Linked DNA regions of Homo sapiens. The protein of the gene in region 1 interacts with the protein of each later gene in a biochemical or structural test. Each region holds a gene or a part of one and is shown in the gene's direction. Other genes may lie near its edges.

What was found. Proteins that work in one complex are often made in the same cells at the same time.
Region 2: the proteins of ATP2B4 (region 1) and PPP1R9B interact in a test that uses a peptide from one of them, tested with the Homo sapiens proteins (one large-scale study listed by IntAct).

The regions. Positions count from the first base shown.
Region 1 is NC_000001.11:203,629,493-203,633,596, forward strand, and holds part of ATP2B4 (plasma membrane calcium-transporting ATPase 4), read left to right. Parts: intron 1-4,104. UniProt on the Homo sapiens protein: Calcium/calmodulin-regulated and magnesium-dependent enzyme that catalyzes the hydrolysis of ATP coupled with the transport of calcium out of the cell. By regulating sperm cell calcium homeostasis, may play a role in sperm motility.
Region 2 is NC_000017.11:50,137,178-50,140,677, reverse strand, and holds part of PPP1R9B (neurabin-2), read left to right. Parts: intron 1-449; coding exon 450-585; intron 586-1,096; coding exon 1,097-1,249; intron 1,250-1,361; coding exon 1,362-1,415; intron 1,416-3,500. UniProt on the Homo sapiens protein: Seems to act as a scaffold protein in multiple signaling pathways. Modulates excitatory synaptic transmission and dendritic spine morphology. Binds to actin filaments (F-actin) and shows cross-linking activity. Binds along the sides of the F-actin.

The DNA.
Region 1 (4,104 bases):
CGCGCACCGGGTCGCCTGAGCCCGGGGTCGCGGCCAAAGGGGTAATCGGCTCCCGCAGTCTCAGCCCTTCCCCCGGGGCTCGGGGCAGGATTGACTGCGCAACCCTGCGGCCCCTGTGCTCTCCGCGGCCTCTGCGACCCCGCCCCGCCAGCCTCTCCGCCGCTGGGCTCCACCCTCCCGGGCTCTGCTGTAGTCTGAGAACTCCGTGGAGAATGCGAACCGAGCGGCGAACGGAGGCTTCCTGCCTCCCAGGTTGTGCCGAGCCTCAGACCCTTCTCCCTTCCATTTACCACCAAGTCTCTAGATTCAAGGTCAAGTCAAAGGAGCACAGCCCGTCTTACCCCTGGGACTCCCAGCGCCCAGCACGGAGCCTGGGATGTTAGAGCGCTGGGTCAAGGCATGTTGAGAGAAGCACGGGCAGTTTGGGGGCCTTGGAATCAGCCTGACGCCAGCGAGTTCCTAACCCGCCGTCTGGCCTCCAGTTTCCCCTCTGCACAATGGAAAGCCTGCTCTCCACGGTAGAGGTGACAGGGCGTGGCTAGGCAGATTTGTCACACTGCTGTGGTCTTTGTCAGAAGAAAATCAAAATGAGAGGGCCCAGTTAGGGGCAGAAGGAGAGCAGTTAGAATTTGCCGAAGGTGTGGGGGCTGGAAGAGGTAAGGTGATGTGTAGGGGCTGGATGTCCTGGGCCAGGATATCGGGAGGCTTTACTCTTCCCCACTCCCACTAACCGGAGGTCCCGAGAGGAACGGGGTCTGGGCTGCTCCCTGCCACCTGTCAGCAGGTCAAGCCTTCCACCGGAAACTGCCCCTTATTCAAGAATTTAGCTTCTCTCAAAAACTCCGAAACCCCTTTTCTCTCTCTCTCTCTCTCTCTCTTTTTTTTTTTTTTTTTTCAATGCTCCTGGCCTTGGACCCAGCACCCAAAGACATGGATTAGCCCTATCCACTAGGACAGAGCATTGCAGACCCACTAAGCCTTGGAGAGAGAAAAGGATCTTGTTCATTCTTAGTCCCCAGAATGACCAAGACAAACCCCGTTAGCCAAACCCCTAAAAAACTGTTTGGCTTAGGTTAGATTAGCTCCAAGTGTTTGACCTTGAAGGGGAACACCCCACCCAGAGTCTTAACTATCCTTCTCTGGAAGGATTCTTCAGGCAATCTGAATTCTTCCCCCGAAGGGCGCCCCTCAGACAAGGCTCCCTACCCAGCCCAGTTCCCTGCTTCTCAGATAAGCATTGATTCCTGTCATCCCAGTGGGTATTTGGTGGGTAGGGGTGAGAAGGAAAGAGGGATGAGAAAAGCAAGGCCTCTGCCTTGTCAGACTGGGATGACAACCTTTCTCCACTCATGTCCCCTTTTCTGCAGGTCATAGGATTAGAGCAGGCCCTGGGGCTGGAGTCCAAAATGCTTGTGTGGAATGTTTTGCCCTTGGCTTCCTCTGCCAGTATCTCTCCTTGTGTCCTCTTTCCTCTTTCCCTTGTGTGAGCCATTCTTGTTCCACTGACTTATTTCCTCTGTACATGTTAAAACAGAAATGACAGGGACTTTCTATTTCTGCCTCTACCTTAAGCCAGTCCTCTGTGTTCAGCCTACATGAACTTGAGTTGAGGAGGGAAACCAGGCAGGATCTAGTGAGGACCAGAGCCAAGGGCTCTGGGTCAGGGAAGAGGCTTGAGAGGCAGTCTATGTGTGAAGGATAGTGGAGAGGCCAAAGGAAAGGAAAGGATTGAGAACATAGGTGCCAAGGGGCAGAGCCCCCATTTCTACCTTTCCTCACCCCAGTTCCTCTCTGCCTAAGATCCTCAGCCTCATTACTCACCTCTGCTCTAGTTTCCCAAGTTTCATGCACAAATCCCTGGGACAACTCAGGGAAGATGAACTGGGATGGGATTACTAAGACCCCCTTCCTCTTGCCTTTCTGCCACTTCACTTGGGGTGTGGCAAAGGGAGTTTGGAGCAGTGCGTTTATTGGTAGGAAGGTCAGGGACTCTCAGCTAGGTTCAAGGAAAGTCTTAGCTTAGAACACCTCATGGCAAGGTCTACCTAGGTTGCGAAATCAATGCCAGGAATACAAACAAGTAGTATACCCTCAATACTAACAGCCCATCTAACATCCCAGGCTCCGTGCTGGGCGCTGGGAGTCCCAGGGGTAAGACGGGCTGTTAGTATTGAGCCCGGGAAGTTAGCAATATCTAACAAAGCTACGTACACATTTACCCAGCAATCCTACGTCTAGGAATTTATCCAGAAGGTGCTCATTCACAAATATGGAAAGCTACGTACAAGGTGATTTTTGTTTGTTTGTTTGTTTGTTTTTTGAGACAGAGTCTCGCTCTGTCGCCCAGGCTGGAGTGCAGCGGCGCGATCTCAGCTCACTGTAAGCTCTGCCTTCCGGGTTCAAGCAATTCTCCTGTCTCAGCCTCGTGAGTAGCTGGGATTACAAGTGCTAGCCACCACACCGGCTAATTTTTTGTATTTTAATAGAGATGGGGTTTCACCGTGTTGCCCAGGCTGGTCTCAAACTCCTGAGCTCAGGCAATCTACCTGCCTGAGCTGGGATTATAGGTGTGAGCCACCAAGCCCAGCCACAAGGTGGTTTTTAAAGGCATATTTACAATAGGAAATCATTGGAAACTATCCAAATGCCCATTCTTTAAAAAATGGTTAAACAAACAATGGTACAGTCCATACAATAGAATCCTAGGTAGCCAAAAAGAAAAAAAAAAGAATGACTAGGAGCCCTGTGAACTTATATGACATGATTGTTAGGATATATTATTAAGTGAAAAAACCAAGACATAGTACAGTATATAGTATGCCACCTTTGGGATAAGAAAGCAGGAGAAGTAAGAAATTTTTTTTTTTTTGAGACAGAGTCTCGCTCTGTTGCCCAGGCTGGAGTGCGGTGGTGGGATCTCGGCTCACTGCAAGCTCTGCCGCCCGGGTTCACGCCATTCTCCTGCCTTATCTTCCTGAGTAGCTGGGACTACAGGCGCCTGCCACCACGCCCGGCTAATTTTTTGTATTTTTAGTAGAGACAGGGTTTCACCATGTTAGCCAGGATGGTTTCGATCTCCCGACCTCATGATCCGCCCACCTCAGCCTCCCAAAGTGCTGGGATTACAGGCGTGAGCCACCACGCCTGGCCTAATTTAAGTACTTTTTAACCTTCATTCCCTGATTCTATATTCATATTTTAAGTAAAAAAAAAAAAAAAAACCACCTACAAAGAAATCTTGACCTTTACTTTGTAGACATGTTATTGGTTGTGGTATTTGTGTCATAAATTGGAAACTGTTTCGTTTATTGTATGATAGATGAAATGAGTAACTATGGTGATATTTCTGGAAATCAGGGTCTCACTATGGAAAAAGAGAGATATAAGTATGGAATGGGGGAAGGGGAAAAAGAATCTTTCGGGGTTTTTTTGTATATCTTGTGGGTCTGTCCACTGAAAGGACTGTGGAAAGGAACACACCTAGTACCTGGATTTTTATTTCTAAGTACAACTTCCCACGGGGGAGGTTGTAAGGAACAGTGCTCCTTGAAAAAATGACTAATTTCAAGTCTGAGACTGGGAAAGTATAAGTGAACTGTGTTGTGCCAGAAACTAGAGCATGCTCATGTCATGACATGTTGTCACAGGAGCTGGCTTAAAGGGTCTCCCGCCAACCAGAGGTGAAACACATTAAGCATTCCAAAGGATAATGGTAATAGATTGTAACACATTGAATATTAAAAATTCCTTGAGTCTATTTTGACAGTTGACATGGACAGGGAGGAGCAGGGAGGGAAAACTCTGAACAGAAATGCCAACGAGGCCAGACACAAGGCCTCACTCTGTAATCCTACCACACTGGGAGGCCAGGGCAGGAGGATCGCTGGAGCCCAGGCGTTTGAGGCTCCCATGAGCTCTGATCATGACACTGCACTCTAGAATGGGTGATAAAGCAAGACTCAGTCTCAAAAAATTAAAAAGTAAATGCCAGTTGGGCGCAGTGGCTCATACCTGTAATCCCAGCACTTTGGGAAGCCCAGGCAGGTGGATTACTTGAGGTCAGGAGTTTGAGACCAGCCTGGCCAACATGGTGAAACCCTGTCT
Region 2 (3,500 bases), on another chromosome or scaffold:
CTATTTCCTCTCCATCCTAATCTCCAGTTGCCATCATCCCGCCCCTTCCTGAAGCTCAGGGGCTTGGAGCATACCCAAGAAACACCTCCGCAGCCCATCCCTGCTGGGAGGGTCATCTTCACCTTTCCCTGCCTCATTTTCTCCCCTGTGGCAGGGGAAGAGCCTCCTCAGTGCATGTCCCCTGCAGCACAGCCTAGAGGTGGGCTGACATTCTCCCTCCCGCAATACTGGCCAGAGGGGTGAATGGGCCTTCCTGCCTCCCTTGGGAAGGAAACCTGATAAGGGCCCTCATTCCCCCATTCATTATTAACACTGCAGCCTTCGGACTCAGCCCTCTCATCTCTCCTCCCCTGGGAGGGCCTGAGTTTGGAGAGGGGAGCATCAGCAGGGAGGATGATGCATTACCTGGCTGAGGACAGAGGCAGCGGATGATGCCGGTGCCCCTGCAGGTTTATGATTGGCCGGGAGCGGCCGGGAGAGCAGAGCGAAGTGGCCCAGCTAATTCAGCAGACTTTGGAACAGGAGCGATGGCAGCGGGAGATGATGGAGCAGAGATACGCCCAGTATGGGGAGGATGACGAGGAGGTAGGGAGTCCCTGCCTGGCTGGCCGCGTGGTCGCCCCCTGGTGGCTAGATGAAGCATTACAGTCATCTGCCTCTACTGCTTCCCCTGCCCTAGTAAAAAGCCCACAGTGCCATTCCCTGTCCTCCAGTCACACTCTTTGTCTTCAGAGGCCGGACAAGGAATACACAGTCCTCTCAAAGAGCCCCCAGTCTGCGGGGAGAGCATAGCCCCTAATCTTGGGGGACCTAATCTGAAAGGGAGATAGATCCAGAAGGGGAAAGATAGTACAGGCTGTTTCTTCAGAGACCCAGGCTGATGAGGAACTGACCCCCTCTGTCATCAGGGGACTACCAGGCTGTTGGGGGAAGACATAAACCGTGTCTCTGGTCCAGCCTCAGGCTGAAGTGGGAGGCATGAACCACATTCCTGGGTAGCTCTCTGTCTGGCATGGGCAACTGGTCCCAGCCCTGGTCATCAGGGCTGAGGGCAGCTGGGTGGGGTGGGCCCACAGTCTCCGGTCTCCCTTCGCAGACGGGAGAGTATGCCACTGACGAGGATGAGGAGCTGAGCCCCACGTTCCCGGGTGGTGAGATGGCCATCGAGGTGTTTGAGCTAGCGGAGAACGAGGATGCACTGTCCCCTGTGGACATGGAGCCCGAGAAGCTGGTGCACAAGTTCAAGGAGGTGGGAGGAGGGGCTCCCTGGAGTGGTGGAGGGAAAGGCAGGCAGGTCTCCTGCCCTTGGCACTGCCTGCCCCACCCTGCTGGAGCTGAGTGCCTGCCCCTCTGCCCAACAGCTCCAGATCAAGCATGCGGTCACTGAGGCAGAGATCCAGCAGCTGAAAAGAAAGGTAAGGGTGCGTATGTGTGTGCTTTTGCGTGCGTGCATGTGTGTGTTGAGGAGCAGGGTCCCCCTACCCTCACACCTGCACATGCTGACACTTAGGCACAGGTACCCACAGAACAAGCTGCTCTAAAGCAAGATGATATGATAGATACGATATTAAGAGCTTAAGCTCTGGATCCATCTGCTCCAGCATCACTTGCTTCTCTGTGCCTCAGCCTCCTCATCTATAAAATGAGGTCGTAATAGCACCAACACCACAGGATCGTTGTGGGATTAAATGAGATAACACACGTCAAGTCTTTAGCACAATGTGTGACATAATAGGAGCTCAATAAAAAGTCAAAGTAGGCTGAGCGCAGTGGCTCATGCCTGTAATCTCAGCACTTTGGGAGGCCAAGGCAGACTGCTTCAGCCAGGAGTTAGAGACCAGCCTGGGCAACATGGCGAAAACCTATCTCTACAAACAATACAAAAATTAGCCAGGTGTGGTAGCGCACACCAGTGATCCCAGCTACTTGGGTGGCTGAGGTGGGACGATCATTTGGGCCAGGGTAGGTCGAGGCTGCAGTGAGCCGTGATTGTGCCACTGCACTCCACTCCAGCCTGAGTAACAGAATGAGACCATGTGTCAAAAGAAAAAAAAGTCAGTATATTAGCTGTGATACCGAAGCATGCTAAGTTCTGCTCTAGGTGTCTCTATGTTTGTGCTGTCCCACATATGTCTGCTATATATAGGCCCATTGATAAGTACAGACCACCCAGAAGTACACACACTGACACAGCAGCCTGGCCCCAGGCACATAGTACCCACAGACCCCCTCACCCAGACACATAGAGACACCCACTCTACACAGACACAGTCACAGAGACAATGGACCTGTGCTTCACATTACACTCGAGGCTATCAGCCTGGATATGCAGACCCACTCTGCACCCATCTGCTCTGAAACACACAGGCATGGCCATCGATCAGACCACCTGGTCTAGGAAGAGTGTCACAGGGCATGCATATTCTCATCTGGGCAAGTAACACAGAGGTGCTGATGCCGACCCCAGATGGAGACACGTGGCACACACACACACACACACACACACACACACACACACACACACGTAGTATACACAGATGCTTACACAAGCATGTCAGGTGCCAGCACCCTCACAGGCATGCAGATATACAGACTTCATATTAAAAGTCTGTATGGGGCCTCTGCTGGGACCTAGACTATAGGAGTCCCAGTACCTATGGGGCTTCTGCCGTGGTGGGGAGAGACAGATCTATAGGGGTCTTGCAGACATGGGAGTGTGTGTACCCTCCCACATGGGGGTATGCAGGAGAGGAGGCCAGGGTTTGGATGGCTGGGGCAGAAGCAGGGGCATTCCTGGCAGGGAGAGGAGCTCCATGGAGCTTGGAGTCTGGCTTTGAGGGGAGGCCAGTCAGGAGGTGGCAGCATGCCTGTCGGGGAGAGGTGGAGGCAGGGCTGGACTGCCAGGATGGGCTCTGGCTTGCAGTATCCTGCCTCCCCTCTAAAGACTCTGGCCTTGGTCCTACAGATAGCATGGGGTATGTGGCCATTGGGATTTTTCGGAAAGCCACTGCCTACAAAGTGGGAGGGCATGAAAGTGGGCAGTGCTGGGAGGCAGGCAAACTGGTTAGGGGCCCAGACAGTGTCCTGGCAGGGGTAGGCCAGGACTGCTCAGAGTATAGGCAGAGGGTCTGGAAAGGAAGGGTAGGTGAGCGCTGCATTTCCGGGGTCAGAGTGACAGGCCATGTTCCTGAGGTGTATGCAGAGTATGAAAGGGAGGGGCACGCCAAAGGTCTGTTAGTGCATTCTACTTACAGACATCCTCTGGGTACCTTCTAGATGTCCAGTATTGTTCTCATCACCATGATGGGCAAAGCCATAGTTGATCGTTGTTCTTGTGCATCTGCAAACCAGTGACTGTGTCATCATCACACGCTGGCATGGGGCTCTGTAGGAGAGAACAGGCTTACTGAGCTGCTAAAGCAGGAGGAACCTGATTCGGGTGGAGGTGGGAGTAGGGCTGTGCTGTTGGAGGGAGCTGTGGGGGCTTTTTTGGAGAAGTG